Linked DNA regions of Homo sapiens. The protein of the gene in region 1 interacts with the protein of each later gene in a biochemical or structural test. Each region holds a gene or a part of one and is shown on either strand. Other genes may lie near its edges.

Evidence for each region.
Region 2: the proteins of CAMP (region 1) and F2 interact in a test that uses a peptide from one of them, tested with the Homo sapiens proteins (one study listed by BioGRID).

What each region holds. Positions count from the first base shown.
Region 1 is NC_000003.12:48,221,977-48,226,241, reverse strand, and holds CAMP (cathelicidin antimicrobial peptide preproprotein), read right to left. Parts: upstream 2,748-4,265; 5' UTR 2,731-2,747; coding exon 2,530-2,730; intron 1,889-2,529; coding exon 1,781-1,888; intron 1,640-1,780; coding exon 1,568-1,639; intron 950-1,567; coding exon 818-949; 3' UTR 757-817; downstream 1-756. UniProt on the Homo sapiens protein: Antimicrobial protein that is an integral component of the innate immune system. Binds to bacterial lipopolysaccharides (LPS). Acts via neutrophil N-formyl peptide receptors to enhance the release of CXCL2.
Region 2 is NC_000011.10:46,725,668-46,729,471, reverse strand, and holds part of F2 (prothrombin preproprotein), read right to left. Parts: intron 3,614-3,804; coding exon 3,299-3,613; intron 2,975-3,298; coding exon 2,846-2,974; intron 2,762-2,845; coding exon 2,635-2,761; intron 1,477-2,634; coding exon 1,309-1,476; intron 809-1,308; coding exon 635-808; intron 93-634; coding exon 1-92. UniProt on the Homo sapiens protein: Thrombin, which cleaves bonds after Arg and Lys, converts fibrinogen to fibrin and activates factors V, VII, VIII, XIII, and, in complex with thrombomodulin, protein C. Functions in blood homeostasis, inflammation and wound healing.

The DNA.
Region 1 (4,265 bases):
CAACCTCTGCCTTCCAGGCTCAAGCAATCCTCCCACCTCAGCCTCCCGAGTAGCTGGGACTACAGGCACGCACCACCATGCCCAGCTCATTTTTGTATTTTTAGTAGAGACAGGGTTTGTTATGTTGCCCAGGCTGGTCTCAAACTCTTGACCTCAAGCAATCCACCCGCCTCGCTTCCCAAAGTCCTGGCATTACAGGTGTGAGCCACCACGTCTGGCCATATTCTTGTTTTTAACAATCCCTAAACACAAGCTCACAAGTTAAATCTGCTACCCACCTGAAGAAACTGTGATGTGTCCCAATGCCAGAGGAAATGCCAGGAGTTATGGGCTTTCCTGAGTTAAGTCTTTTAGGAAGCATTGGAATTTTATGGGAATTGTACCTGCAGGGAGACCGCACCCAGTTGGCCAGCCACCCATGGGACTGGACCATGCTTCTCTGAGTGTTAACAACACGCTTGGCCCCTCCCTTGAATGTCACCTCCCCATGAGCAGGAACAGCTCCACAGCATTCCCCCACCACCACACACAGAGTAGAGCTCCTTAATTCCCCACTGGGGGTTCCACTGAGAATGGGAATGCCATCTTGGATCTCTTGGCCCTACTGCCTTACCCTGTGTCCTCCTGGATGGAACACTGCCCTCGCCACCTCTGTGTCACACTCACACACACTCACACTCACACGTGGACTCCCTGAGCTAAGGGCTCAGTTGTGGTGAGAGAGAGGAGGCAAAACAAGTGAGACTGAAGCCTGAGGAAATTGCTCTCATAGTTTATTTCTCAGAGCCCAGAAGCCTGAGCCAGGGTAGGGCACACACTAGGACTCTGTCCTGGGTACAAGATTCCGCAAAAAATCCTTGATTCTCTGGACAATTCTTTTAAACTCTTTGCCAATCTTCTCTTTAGATTTCCGGAAGAAATCACCCAGCAGGGCAAATCTCTTGTTATCCTGGGGTTGTGTACAGGAAGAAACAGGTTCCTTGTCGGGGATGTACCCAGGGTCAATCCAAGACCCCTCCCCACCTAGACGCCCCTCTTCGTGGGCCCCCGCAGGAGCTTTGGGGCCCCAGTTCAACCTCTGGCTGTGACCTTTGAAGCATGTGATTGAATCCCTACACCCAATAAAAAGATGAGAAAACAGAGTCCCGGAGATAGTGAGGGGCTCTGCAGGGTCACACAGCCCAGCCCAGCAACACTGAGATGGGAACACAGGGCTGAGAGCTGAGTACTCTTAGACAGTGGCTCTCAAACTTTACAGAAGCCGGAATCTCCTGGAAAGCTTATCAAAATACGAATTTCTGGGCCCTACCCAGAGTCTGTCTGAGTAGGTCTGAGTAGGGCCTGAGAATTTGCATATCTAACGAGTCCCCAGGAAGGGCTACACTTGGAGATCTACCGCTCTAAGGGATTCCAGAGCCGGCCCTGGAGATGGAACTCAGGTTTGGGGAAGAGCCCTGGGTAGGAGGGGCTTTCTCTGTCCTGGGTTGGGGGAGTAGTTAATTGACCCATTGGATGGTCCACACTCTATGCCCCCATCAGCCCCTGCATCCCAGAACAGCCCACTCACCTTATCACAACTGATGTCAAAGGAGCCCCTGGCCTGGTTGAGGGTCACTGTCCCCATACACCGCTTCACCAGCTGGAAAGGAGAAGCTCAAGGTCAAACTTGAAACCATTTGCCATGACCTCCCAGCCACATCCCAGTGGGAAATATTCCCCAGGTGCCCCCTGTTCAGCTCCTTGGGAGGCACCCACCAACACCCCCAGCCCCCAGCCTCACCCCGTCCTTCTTGAAGTCACAATCCTCTGGTGACTGCTGTGTCGTCCTGGGGCACACTGTCTCCTTCACTGTGAAGCTCACAGGCTTTGGCGTGTCTGGGTCCCCATCCTAGTCAGAGGAGGAAATGGGGAGGCCCATTCTTGTATTTTCTGATTTGTGTCCATGACCTCCCCACCAAGAGGGCAGGCTTTCCACAGTACCTGATGTGCGACGGGCACTGGGTGCTGGGCTTGGCACTGGGGCATTGAGGGGAGGAGGACTGAGCCATTCCTACCCTCCTAGGTGAACAGTGAGTAGGAGCAGACCTCAGATGAGCTCTAACAAGGAGCCCCTCCCACTCTGGGGTGGGGGCAAGGGAAGTCAGGGGGCTTCCTGGGGGACAAGACATGCCCACTGGAACCTAAAGTCTGGATAGAGTTCTTCCCTATGTGGGGTAACGTGGTACAGAAGAGACTTAAAGCAGAGGAGGTCACTGCCCAGAGCCAATGACCCCATTCTAGTGCCTGGAGCTCGCAGAAGTCCCAAAACCTGCGTGGGGTCGGGGTGAGGGTATCTCTGCCACAGCAGGAATTATAAGGCAGGAAGCTCTCGAGCTGGGAGGAGACACGAGCTCTAGAAGGTTCCCTGGAAAACACGGGACCACATTTAAAGGGGGAGATGCCCTCCTGGCAGGCAGTGCAGCAGGAGCAGAAGGAACAACACGTGGCCAAGCCCAGCCAGAGCAGAGCAGAATGTCCCCCAAAGCTCACCATCGTGGGCCTGGGGTCCAGGTCCAGGAGGCGGTAGAGGTTAGCATCCGAGGACCGCTGGTTGATGCCATCTATAGCACGAAGCACAGCTTCCTTGTAGCTGAGGACCTGGGCAATGATGGCCAGAGGCATCACCAGGCCCAGCAGCAGGAGCACCAGTGACCACCGCCCCAGGGAGTGGCCATCCCTTTGGGTCTTCATGGTCCCCATGTCTGCCTCCCTCTAGCCCACAGGAGCCTCCTTTATGCCCAGCCTGAGCCTGATGCAAAAGCCCAACCAGGAGCCTTCCTGATCCACCCATCCCTGGCTGCCTGCCAGGGTGTGGGCTGGGGTTTGCTTTAGCCCCTGGCTATTGCTTCACAGGACTTGCTGGGCAGTGAGTGAGGCCTTCCTTGTGTGCAAGATGAGGAAGTGGTTTCTTCATCTCTGACAACCTCCCAGACCTGACCGGAGATTGTCATAGCCAGGGGTGCTCAAGAGCGTTAAATCCCTCCAGAGAGGAAGAGAGCCAGGTGCCTATTCTACATCCTTCTACTCCTCAGGAGTCAGTATGATGGACTGCTAAATCTCCAGCTCTAGGCATTGCCTGGCACCCTGTAGGCATCGATTAAGAATTGATGAATGAGGCAGGGCACGGTGGCTCACGCCTATAATCCCAGCACTTTGGGAGGCCAAGGTGGGCGGATCACCTGAGATAAGGAGTTCGAGACAAGCTTGGCCAACATGGTGAAACCCCATCTCTACTAAAAATATGAAAATTAGCCACGCATGATGGCTCACACCTGTAGTCCCAGCTACAAGCTGAGGCATGAGAATCACTTGAACCCATTGAACCCGGGAAGCAGAAGTTGCAGTTAGCTGAGATCATGCCACTGCACTCCAGCCTGGGTAACAGAGTGAGACTCAGTATGAAAAAAAAAAAAAAGAACTGGTAAATGAAGACAGTAGCCACCCCCAACCTAGAGACTCACTCTTGCAAGGGACAAGTTGCCCTTTCAGTTCAAGGCCATACCACATGCTCTCTGGACCCAGCCGTCAGCCAGACGAAGGCTCTGCTCCATCTATCCCCTTCTGCATCCTTCTTCACTGTTTTTTTCAGTCTCAAAATGTTCCCAAGCCCCTCCAGACATGGCCTTTCACCATGGCTTCTCCCAAGCCAAGTCTTAGGAAAGGTTGTCTACGCTTCTTGACCCCATCTTTTCACTCTTCTTCATGCTGAAGGCCACTGAAGGCTGGCCAACCCACCCTTGGTCCATGGCCACCCTCAAGCCTGGTCTTTGTCTGCACAGGCACTGGTGAGCCTTCCTTCTTGCTGCCCCGGTCTCCCCTGATGCCACTCTCCTGCTGTCCCTCCTGCCTCCCTGGTGGCTCCTTCTTGGTCTCCCCTAAGGGCTGTCTTCTTAATATTGAGAGCGTGTGGGGTCACCTCCTGGGCTGCTTCTCTTCCCTGGCCTCGGGTTTCCCTGGGGACGCCCTCTCCCAGGACACCAGTTATAATAGGCAGACACCACCCAGTCTGTATCTCTGAGTTCGAGACTCCCATGAACGTCCCGGTTGTCCCCACTGGGCCTCCTTGACTGCTCTTCTGCTGAGTGCCCACTGCATGAGCCCTGAAGCACCTTTGGCTCCTTCCTCCCGAAAGCACTCCCCTCTGGCCTCTCCTTCCACCCCTGCCTGGCTCCTGCCGCCATCTTCTCTCCCATGCAATGCTGCCCCAGCCTCCAGACTCCACCTTC
Region 2 (3,804 bases), on another chromosome or scaffold:
CACTGGGCTGCCCCTTACCAACGTTGGCTGTCCACGTCTCCTTCAGGTTGCCCCAGCCTGTCACCCGCCCCTTGTATCCAGCCTGGAGCAAGCTTTGGGGAAGGAAGAAGGGCCTAGTGAGAGCCAACCCCCACAGGAGCCGCCTGGCCCCAACGCCATTTCTTAGAGACCAGAATCTAAAACGCCAGAGCTGGCTGGGCACAGACGTTCACGCCTGTGGTCTCGGCACTTTGGGAGGCCGAGGCGGGTGAATCACTTGAGGTCAGGGGTTCGAGACCAACCTGGCCGACACGGTGAAACCCACCAGTCTCTACTAAAAATACAAAAATTAGCCTGTAATCCCAGCTACTCAGGAGACTGAGGCAGGAGAGTCGCTTGAACCCAGGAGGTGGGGTTGCAGTGAGCCAAGATCGCACAACTACACTCCAGCCTGGGAGACAAGAGTGGAACTCCGTCAGTAAATAAATAAATATAAATAAAAAATAAAACGCCAGTACTGAAAAGAACTTTTGGGTTCACTCCAAGAAACCGAGGCCTGGAAAAGGGAAAGGGGCTCTTGCAAGGCTACTTGGTATCAGAGCCAGGCCCAGAACTTGGCTTCTGCCCCTCAGCTAACAAGCATCTGGTGGCCCACCTGGCTGCCGTCTCCCTGTCGGGCAGACACACAGGGTGAATGTAGTCACTGAAGGCAACAGGCTTCTTCAGCTTCATCAGGGCAATGTCCCGGTCCAGGTTCTCCCGCCAGTTGTACCTGGGGTGGATGTAGATCTTTTCCAACATGGATATCTTTTCAATGTTTCGCTCGTACCTGCAGAGACCCCAAGAAAGAAATGGAGAAGCTGCAGGTTCACCCAGCAAGGAGCAGGAAACTGCCTGCCCTTGGGGTCTGGGAGACAGTGTGTCCTGCAGGCCACCAGGGAGGGGATAGGGCTGGTTCCTGCCATGGCAGCCCCCTGGGTGTTTCTTCCTGGGCCTAAAGCCGTGCAGGGCTTTGGAGTCAGACAGCCTGGAGGACGGGGACAGGGGCACAGGCTGCACGCCCTAGTCCAGACAGACTCTATTTTCAGAGACTCCCACATGGGCTATATCCTAGTGTTGGAGGGACCAGGAGACAGACGGATTTCTCCCCGCAGCTCCAAGCCTCAGTCAGGACGTGACCAAATGGGCTTTCCAGCAGAGACTGCTGGGATGTTATATTCTGGGGGGTATACAGAACATCCTATGTGTCCCGGAGCCACCAGGGCCCCTCATGATCGCTTTGGAGGACTCAGACCCCTGCCAGACACCCACGGGCCACCAGTTCTGTACCTGGTGCGGGAGTGCTTGCCAATGCGCACCAGAAGGTCATTCTCGGTGAAGTTCTTGTCCCAGGGCGGGTACAGGAGGCAGTGGGCGGCGGTGAGGACCCAGCGGTCACTGATGAGGCTGGCCCCACACAGCAGCTCCTGGGGACTCTTCCGGAAAAGCATCACCTGCCTGGGAGGGGCAGCAGGAAGCATTAGGAGCTGAGGATGAGGGGGCTGCCTCTACACCAGCCCTAGAAGTAACAATCCCAGGTCTAAGAACCCAGCTGGGCAGAGCTGCCTCCGGGGCCCAGATCCAAGCTTGGGCTGGCCGCCTTTGGGGCCTGGAGCCTCCGTGTGATGCTGAGGGGCTGCCTCACACTTTTTTATTTATTTATTTATTTATTTTTGAGACAGGGTCTCACTCTTGTCACCCAGGCTGGAGTGCAATGGTACAGTCACAGCTTACTGAAGCCTCAGCCTCCTGGGCTCAGGCGATCCTCCCGCCTCAGCCTCCTTAGTAGCTGGGACTACAGGGACATGCTGCTACACCTGGCTAATTTTTGCATTTTTAGTAGAGACGGGGTTTTACCATTTTGCCCAGGCTGGCCTCGAACTCCTGCCCTCAAGTGATCTTCCTGTCTTGGCCTCCCAAAGTGCTGGGATTACAGGGGTGAGCCACTGCACCTGACCTGCCTCCTGCTTTTTGCACCCCCTAACTAGGTCCTTCCAGTCCAGAGTTCACATAGCGTAGCACAGCTCTGGAATCAGAAGAACTGGATTCAAACCCATTAGCTGTGCGCGGAGGTGAGCCACCAGCTCCGTCAGTCTCAGCTTTACCATCTGCTTAGAAGTAAAGGACCCATGGGCCGGGTGTGGTGGCTCATGCCTGTAATCCCGGCACTTTGGGAGGCTGAGGCAGGTGGATCACTTGAGGTCAGGAGTTCAAGACCAGCCTGGCCAACATGGTGAAACCCTGTCTCTACTTAAAATACAAAAATTAGCCGGGTGTGGTGGCGCATGTCTGTAAATTCAGCTACTCAGGAGGCTGAGGCAAGAGAATCGTTTGAACCCGGAAGGCAGAAGTTGCAGTGAGCTGAGATCGAGGTAGTGAGCCGAGATTGCAGCACTGCACTCCAGCCTAGGTGACAGAGCAAGACTCCATCTAAGAAACAAAAAAAAAGAAGTAAACAACCCATCTCATGTGGCTGCTGTGTGGAGTTGGTGGGATCCTGGATGCTCAGCTGTTGTCATCTGTAAAGCCCAGGCCTGCAGGCAGGGCCTGAGGGTGGGGGTCCAGCAGCACACCTGCCCCCAGGAGTGAATGGTAGCGCAGGGCTCCAGGACACACCAAGGTGACATGCCGATCTCTGCATCCGAGCCCTCCACAATGCGCCCGTCGATGTAGGATTCCAGGAGCTCTCTTTCGGTTTTGTCCTCCAGCGACTTCTTCTCGAACAGAGGTCGCAGCCCACAGTCTGCAGAGCAAGCCAAGCAGTGAGGGGCAAGTCCTGGCCACCAGCCCCGCAGCCCCGCATCCCCTCGGATGCCCACTACCTCACCTGCCTCTCCCGAGCCAAAGGTCCTCGGATTGAAGAAAGTCTGGTACTCACTGGTGGCGGTACGCCCTTCGATGGCCCTGTCTGAGTCCTCATCCAGCCCATCTCCTGTCTCCTCCTCCACGGCCTCCTCTGTTGGGACCCAGGCACCGGCTGGGACTGGGCTGGGCCATTCCTCACCCATCCCCTAGATCCCCCCAATTCCCCTACGGGCCTTGGAGGCCATTTGGTGCAGAGGTTAAGCGTGCATGCACAGTTGGGCTACTAGGCAATAACCTCCTGGGGCCTCAGTGTACTTATCTGTGAAATGGGCACAGGACCTTACCCCCCACCTGGTTACTGTAAGGCTGTAATGAGCGCACTCAATGAGGTAAGCGTTCGATAAGCAGAAGCGGCTGTTGTTATTCCCACCAGGATTTGTCCCTGCAACTCAGGCCCCCTACCCAGGCAGCTCACCACAATAGTTGAGGTCGCAGTACCCAAAGTCGCCAGGCTTCCCGGCCACATAGCACCACACGCCCTCCTCATCCCCGTCTGGGTTGCGGCAGAAGTTCTCCACCAGCTGCACAGCTGAGTTGAAGTCCTGGTGCTTGCTCAGGGCCTTGGCCTGTGCGCTGGCCCAGGCCAGGCAGGGGAGCCCATGTGTGGTCACCGCCAGGCGCCCCTGGTACTGCTGCCCCCGATCAGGGACACACTGCTCCAATGGAGGTGACAGATTCACACTGGAGCCTTCGGAGCGTGGAGTCATCGCTACAGTGACTTGATCCTGGCCTGGTGGGTGAGGGGCAAGGAGGCAGCAGAGTGAGTGAGACCACACATGGACCGGAACAGACAGGGGTGTGAACCCCGGTCTTGCTGCTTTCTGCCTGTGTGACCTCAGGTTACTTAACCTCTCTGGGCTTCTGACCGTTTGCCTTTAAAGGGGTTACTAATGCCACTTTTGCAGGTTTGTTGAGAGGATT